Homo sapiens: one gene and its partner. The protein of the gene in region 2 purifies or fractionates together with the protein of the main gene of each other region. This does not show direct contact. Each region holds a gene or a part of one and is shown on either strand. Other genes may lie near its edges.

The links. Proteins that work in one complex are often made in the same cells at the same time.
Region 1: the proteins of IGSF21 (region 2) and RBPMS2 purify together in Homo sapiens (affinity purification with mass spectrometry; one large-scale study listed by BioGRID and IntAct). This does not show direct contact.

The regions. Positions count from the first base shown.
Region 1 is NC_000015.10:64,768,996-64,772,651, reverse strand, and holds part of RBPMS2 (RNA-binding protein with multiple splicing 2), read left to right. Parts: intron 1-3,656.
Region 2 is NC_000001.11:18,369,677-18,373,332, reverse strand, and holds part of IGSF21 (immunoglobulin superfamily member 21 precursor), read right to left. Parts: intron 1-3,656. UniProt on the Homo sapiens protein: Involved in synaptic inhibition in the brain. Selectively regulates inhibitory presynaptic differentiation through interacting with presynaptic NRXN2.

The DNA.
Region 1 (3,656 bases), on a different chromosome or scaffold from region 2:
GGAGGGAGTCGCATGTATAAGTGAGGAGGTAGGTTTGTGTAACCACATGGCTTGTTTGGGTAACTACCTGGAGTTTGCTATATTGCAGCAATATCAGGCAGTGCAGCCATAATGAGAGTTTGGAATTAGGGCAGTAATGACTGTGGTATTACGGGAAAATTGGCATTTTTCTGCCACTTGGGAAGATGTGTTCGAAGCTTTGATACCCTTTGAAAGCTAAGGAGGGCAGTAAGGAATTAAGGGGAGGAGCTGAATGTCCCTCCCAATCTAGAGGTTGTGCTGTCCTGCAGGTAAGTCTTGACTGGAGCTGGGGACGACATGAGGTAATACAGTACATGAACCTGTCCGGGGCAGGCTGTATCAGTGCTGCCAAACTTCAGACCTAAATGTCCTGTCTTAGTGATTCTCAAGGGATAACTGGGTAATTACCATGTCTCTGAAGAGGGGTAAATGTGATTTCTATTTTGAAAGTGGAGACCTTGCTTTCATAATACAGTTGCTGTTGGCCTTCCATTTCTATGGGTTCCCTATCCATGAATCCAGTTGTAGATAAAAAATACAATAATAAAAAATAATACAAATAAATATAACAACTATTTACATAGCATTCACATTGTATTAGGTATTGTGAATAATCTAGAGATGAGTTAAAGTATCCAGAAAATGTGCATAGGTTATTTTTTTATTTGTTTGAAGGGGAGTTTCACTCTTGTCACCCAGGCTGGAGTGCAGTGGCACAATCTCAGCTCACTGCAACCTCTGCCTCCCAGGTTCAAGCAATTCTCCTGCCTCAGCCTCCTGAGTAGCTGGGATTACAGGTGCCCGCCACCATACCTGGCTAATTTTTGTTTTTTAGTAGAGACAGGATTTCACCATGTTGGCCAGGCTGGTCTTGAACTCCTGTCCTCAGGTGACCTGCCCACCTCAGTCTCCCAAAGTGCTGGGATTACAGGCCTGAGCCACGGCGCCCAGCCTTGTTTTGTTTTTGAGACAGTCTCTGTTGCCCAGATTGGGGTGCAGTGGCGCAATCTCGGCTCACTGCAACCTCCTCCCAGGTTCAAGTGATTCTCCTGCCTCAGCCTCCAGGATTGCAGGTGCACGCCACCATGCCTGGCTAATTTTTGTATTTTTAGTAGAGACGGGGTTTCACCATGTTGGCCAGGCTGGTCTTGAACTCCTGACCTCAAGTGGTCCATCCAGCTCGGCCTCCCAAAGTGCTGAGATTACAGACGTGAGCCACCGTGCCCGGCCTGTGCATAGGTTATATACAAATTTTATATAAGAGACTTGAACATCTGGAGATGTTGATATCCAAGGGGGAACCCTGGAACCAATCCGCCTCAGATATCGAGGGACAACTAAACGGTACGAGGTGATACTAAGTTATAGTAATTTTTAAAAACCACTTTTTTGAGGTATGATTGGCATATATAAAGGTGTATATTTAGTGTATACAACTTGAAGAGTTTGGAGATTGTTAAAGTAATTTTTAACTGGGGGGCACCCCTGGAAGGGGGAGAGTGGTATTTATACTATTGGGTTGAGGGAGGATATAAGTTTCTTAAGAGTTAAAAAAGTTTTTGCCAGCTTAATGGTAAGCTATAGAAAGGCAGGGGTTAATGGCAGCTAAGGGGGCTACAGTTTGACCTGAGGGGCTTTGCCCTTCCCTGCCCTTCCACCTCATCCCAGTGTGGCTGGGACAGGGCTGCTGCTTGCAGGCCTGGTATCCTAGAGCCCATCATGTGTCCTCAGAGGGGTGTCAGGAAGCAGCCAGAGCCCTGGGACCACTGGGTGGCTTGAGGTCAGCCCTCCCTGAGATGTGGGTGAACAGGTGCTTAGACTTGTGTGGATGGAACGGGGAGGGGGGTGTGGGAGGTGGGGGATAAGGCACTCTAGATGAGTGCGAGGTAATTCCTGGATCCAGTGTGCTATTTGGGCACCTCCCTTTTCTTTAACATCAATAGCATTTGAAAGCATCTGGGACATCTTGGTCTGCAGGCTTTTTTTGAATATGAGGGAATGGAGGCTTCTCTGTTTCTGGGCACTCACCTAGAAGCCCTGCCAGGCATATAGCAGTAGGAGGTCAGGTTCCCCTCCTCACTGGGAGTTATTGTGGATGTGTCCCCTCTGCCTAAGTAATCTAAGGGAGAGGCTGTACTAATAATAATGAACCTGTATGTTGTATTTATGCCAGGCATTGTTATATGTTCTGCACCATTTTAACTCTTAATCTTTGTAAGAGCATTATGAAGTACTTACATTATTATCACCATTTCATAAATGAGGAAAGTGAGGCACAGAGAGGTTAAATAACTTTCATGTAGCTATTAAGTGGGGAGGTTGGGATTTGAACCCAGAGTTTGCTCTTAACCACACAGTATACTGCTATTGTGTTTTATATTAGGGTTTTTGGTGAGACTGGAAGGCAGGGGGAGAAAGGTATCTGCAATTTTCTTTTTTTTTTCTTTTTTTTGAGACGGAGTCTCGCCATGTCACCCAGGCTGGAATGCAGTGGTATGATCTTGGCTCACTGCAACCTCTGCCTCCCAGGTTCAAGCGATTATCCTGCCTCAGCCTCCCAAGTAGCTGGGATTACAGGCGCGCACCACTACGGCCAGCTAATTTTTATATTTTTAGCAGAGACGGGGTTTCACTGTGTTGGTCAGGCTGGTCTCGAACTCTTGACCTCCTGATCCTCCTGCCTCGGCCTCCCAAAGTGCTGGGATTACAGGCGTGAGCCACCGCGCCCAGCCGGGTATCTGCAATTAAAGTTTCTAATGGCTGAGTTTTGGGTGATGCCAACCAGAAGCCCAGAGGCTGACTCCGGACTAGTTTCCTTTGGGCTGGTGGCATCCCAAGATGGGTGATGGGAGCTGTCAGCCCCTGCCAGGAGGGGCCTTTTATCACAGATATGATTTAGAGTTGCCATTGCACGAAGATAATAAACAAACCAAGCCAGTTTTATTTTATTTTTATTTATTTATTTATTTTTGAGATGGAGTCTCGCTCTGTCGCCCAGGCTGAAGTGCAGTGGCGCGATCTCAGCTCACTGCAAGCTCTGCCTCCTGGGTTCACGCCATTCTCCTGCCTCAGCCTCCAGAGTAGCTGGGACTACAGGCGCCCGCTGCTACGCCCGGCTAATTTTTTGTATTTTTTAGTAGAGATGGGGTTTCACCGTGTTAGCCAGGATGGATTTTATTTTTTAAATTCTTTTTTTTTTTTTTTTTGAGACGGAGTTTCGCTCTTGTTGCCCAGGCTGGAGTGCAATGGCGCGATCTCGGCTCACCGCAACCTCCACCTCCTGGGTTCAAGCAATTCTTCTGCCTCAGCCTCCCAAGTAGGGGGATTATAGGCATGTGCTACCACGCCCAGCTAATTCTGTATTTTTAGTAGAGATGGGGTTTCTCCATGTTGGGAGGCCTCGGCCTCCCAAAGTGCTGGGATTGCAGATGTGAGCCACTGCACCTGACCTAAATTCTTTTTTAAAAAATCTATATCCTTACACATCTTGCATATTTTTAAAATTCTTTTTTTTTTTTTTTTTTTTTTTTGAGACGAAGTCTTGCTCTGTCGCCCAGGCTGGAGTGCAGTGGCACGATCTCTGCTCACTGCAAGCTCCGCCTCCCGGGTTGACGCCATTCTCCTGCCTCAGCCTC
Region 2 (3,656 bases):
AGTGCCCGAAAGGAATGCTCTTAGTCTCCGGACTTTCCTGCCTCTCAAGCCCTGGACGTAGAGAAAGAGCAGGAGTCCAGAGACCCAGGATTGACACCTAGCCCTCTACTTTCTGGCTGCATGACTTGGATGAGTCATTTCAACTTGTTGGGCTTCAGTTTTCTAACTTGTAAATGGGGAGAATAGGCTACCACCCTGCTTGAGGAAATACTCTGAAAATGACAATGGAGGAGGGAGATAAGACTGCAATGTGAAATGTAAAGTGATGTCTATCTGCTCAGGGAATGAAAAAGATCCTGGACATATAAGTTGCCTTCCTTACCTGTCCTGAGCATCCTGATGCAAGGATAGTACTGTGGAATCTCAAGGAAAAGCTCCTCTAAGTTTCCCCTAGGAATTCTGGATGCTTTCTAAGACAATCACTCACCCATTCACCCACTCATCCATCCATCCATCCATCCATCCACCCATCCATCCATCCATCCATCCATCCATCCATCCATCCATCCAAATATCCATCCTTCCAAACATCCATCTATTCATCCATCCCTCCAAACATCTATCCAAACATCCATTCATCCATCCATCCATTCATCCATCTAAACACTCATCCATCCATCCCTCCATCCACCCATCTAAACACTCATCCATCCATCCCTCCATCCACCCATCCAAACATCCATCCATCCATCCATCCATCTATCCATCCATCCAAACATCCACCCATTCATCCATCCCTCCAAACATCCATCCAAATATCCATCCATCCATCAAAACATCCATCCATCCATCCATCCATCCATCCATCCATCCATCCTTCCATCCATCCAAGCATTCATTTTATTCATTCATCTATTCAAACATCCAACAATCCATCCAAGTGCCTACCCATAAACCTACCAATTTGCTTACCCATCCATTTCTTCATTTGCTCTATCCATCTAATTCTTTATTGTACACCTAATTTGTGGTGGTCACTATTCCCGGTCACTGTTGGGGATACTATGATGAATAATAACAGTAGCTTATATTTCCTGAATATTTCCTCTGCCTGTCACTATAAGCACTTTGTATGCACTGCCTTACTTAATCTTCTCAACAACCTAGAAAAGCATTAATTAATTAACTATTAAACAGTTGTTTATTAAGAACTATGTTGGGGTTGTTCTGAGCCCTGTACTCTGTGAACTAGGCGGATAAAGAAGACCCTGCCCATGTGCCATTTAAATTCTAGTGGGTGATGGGAATGCGCAGAGTTTGGTTGAGGTGGTGGTTACACCAGCATTCACATTTATTAAAATCTGTCAAATTGTGCACTGAAGGACCTGCATTTCCCAATATGTAAATTTTATCACAGTTAAAACATATATGAAGAATGAATTGTTCAAGCCAGTTCACCTGACTGCCATTACATCTAAAACCAAATCTCAATTCCTACCTTGTGGGCGATTCAGACAATAAGCAAATATAGAATATACTTGTAGGTGGAAATGAGTTATGTAAGAAAACAAAGCAAGAGAAGGGGTGGAAGGAACCAGGAGGAAGAGGCTGCTTTAGATAGAGTGTTCAAGGAAGGACCCTCTGAGTAGAGGACTCGAGCAGAGGCCTCCTTCCAGTCAATTTCCATTCTTCATAGGCCAACACTGTTCCCATTTCTATCAATGGATATTTATTTTTTGTTCTAGAATTTCAAATAAATGGACTCACACAGTGAGTACTCTGTCATCTGGCTTCTTTTGATCAACATTTTTTTTTTTTTTTGAAATGGAGTCTTACTCTATTGCCTAGGCTGGAGTGCAGTGGCGCAATCTCAGCTCACTGCAACCTCCACCTCCCAGGTTCAAGGGATTCTCCTGCCTCAGCCTCCCAAGTAGTTGGGCCTACAGGCATGAGCTACCATACCCAGCTAATTTTTGTATTTTCAGTAGAGCCGAGGTTTCACCATGTTGGCCAGGCTGGTCTCAAACTCCCGGCTGCAAGTGATCCACCTGCCTCGGCCTCCCAAAGTTCTGAGATTGCAAGTGTAAGCCACCGTGCCCAGCCTGATCAACATGTTTTTGAGCTCCATCCATGCTAATGCAGGTATCATGAGTTCATTCATTTGTATTGATAAAAAGTATTTTGTTATATGAATATACTACAAATACGTTTATTCATTTTTCTAATTATGGACATTTAGATTATTTACAGTTCTGTTGTTTTTGCTGTTGCCATGAATAAAGCTGCTGTGGACATATGTTTTCATTTCTCTTGGGTAAATACCTAGGAGTGAAATCGTTGGGTCATAAGAACAGAAATATTTTTATCTTTGTAAGAAACTGCCAGTTTTTCAAAGTAGTAGTACCATTTTATTCTGCAGTCAGCAAAGCATGAGAATTCTGATTGTTCTACCTTCTTGTCAACATCTGGTATTGTCAGTTTTTAAAATTTTAGCCACTCTAATAGATGTGAAATGGTATCTCATGGAGGTTGGAATCTTCATTTCTCTAATAACTAATAATGTAGTGTAGGTTTTTACATGTTTATTAGCCATTTGTATATTTTCTTTTTTAAAAAATTGGGTAGTCTTTCATTATTGATTTGTCATAGTTCTTTATATATTCTGGTTACAAATGCTTTGTCAGATATATGTATTGAGAGTATTTTCTCTCATTCTATAGTTTGCTTTTCTTTTTTCTCAAGGATATCTTTGTAAGAGCAGAAGATTTAATTTTTGATTAAGTCCAATTTACCAAATTCAATTTATCATTTAGTTTTTATTTAGTTTTTATTTTGTGACCACTTTAAGAAACCTTTGTTACACAAATATCACAAAGGCTATGTTTTGTTCTAGAGGCTTCATGATGCTGACTTCTACTTTTAAATCTATGATTCATTTCAAATTAATTTTTGTGTGTGTGCGAGGCAGGGGTCCAGGTTTAATTTTTCCTTATGCCTATTCATTTGTTTCAGGGTCATTTTTTAAGAGAACTTCTCTTTCCTGATTGAACCGCCTTGGGGGTCTTTGGCAAAAATCAATGAACTCTGTGTATGTAGATCTATTTCTGGACTCTATCCTGTTTTGTCAATCTATTTGTCTACCACAGGAAGGTTTTGGGCGGGTGTCATGATCTGATTTATATTTTAAGTAGATCAATCGGGGTGGGAAATAGGATAGGGTGAAAGTGGAAGCAGAACGATCAGTTTGAAGGCTACTCTAATAACCCAGGCTTGAACTGATGGTGCTTGGGTTGGGTATTTGGAGAGGAGACCGTGAGGAGTGGCAGATTTGGGATATATTCTGAAGTTGAGCTGCCAGGGCTTAATGATGGTTTGCATGTGGGATAGGAGGGAAGAGTGGAAAAGGTGAGGGGTCTGCAAGGCTTCTGGTTTGATCAATGGGAAGGACATGGTTGCCATTTAGTGAGATGGGTGCCAGGACGCTCAGGCATCTGTGGTCCAGATTACGAGAAAGGTACAAATCTGGTGAGACAAGAACTGAGAAGAGGCACAAACAGCTCAAAGGGTTGGGGGAGAGTCAGAGAAATCTTCCTGGAGGGGTGGCATTTCAGCTGCGGAGGGCATCCCTGCAAGGGAAGAGGAGGAGCGAAGGCTCATTGCAGGGAGACACATCCCACCCTCGTTGGCCTGATCTTCAAAATCCTTGTTGAATGATT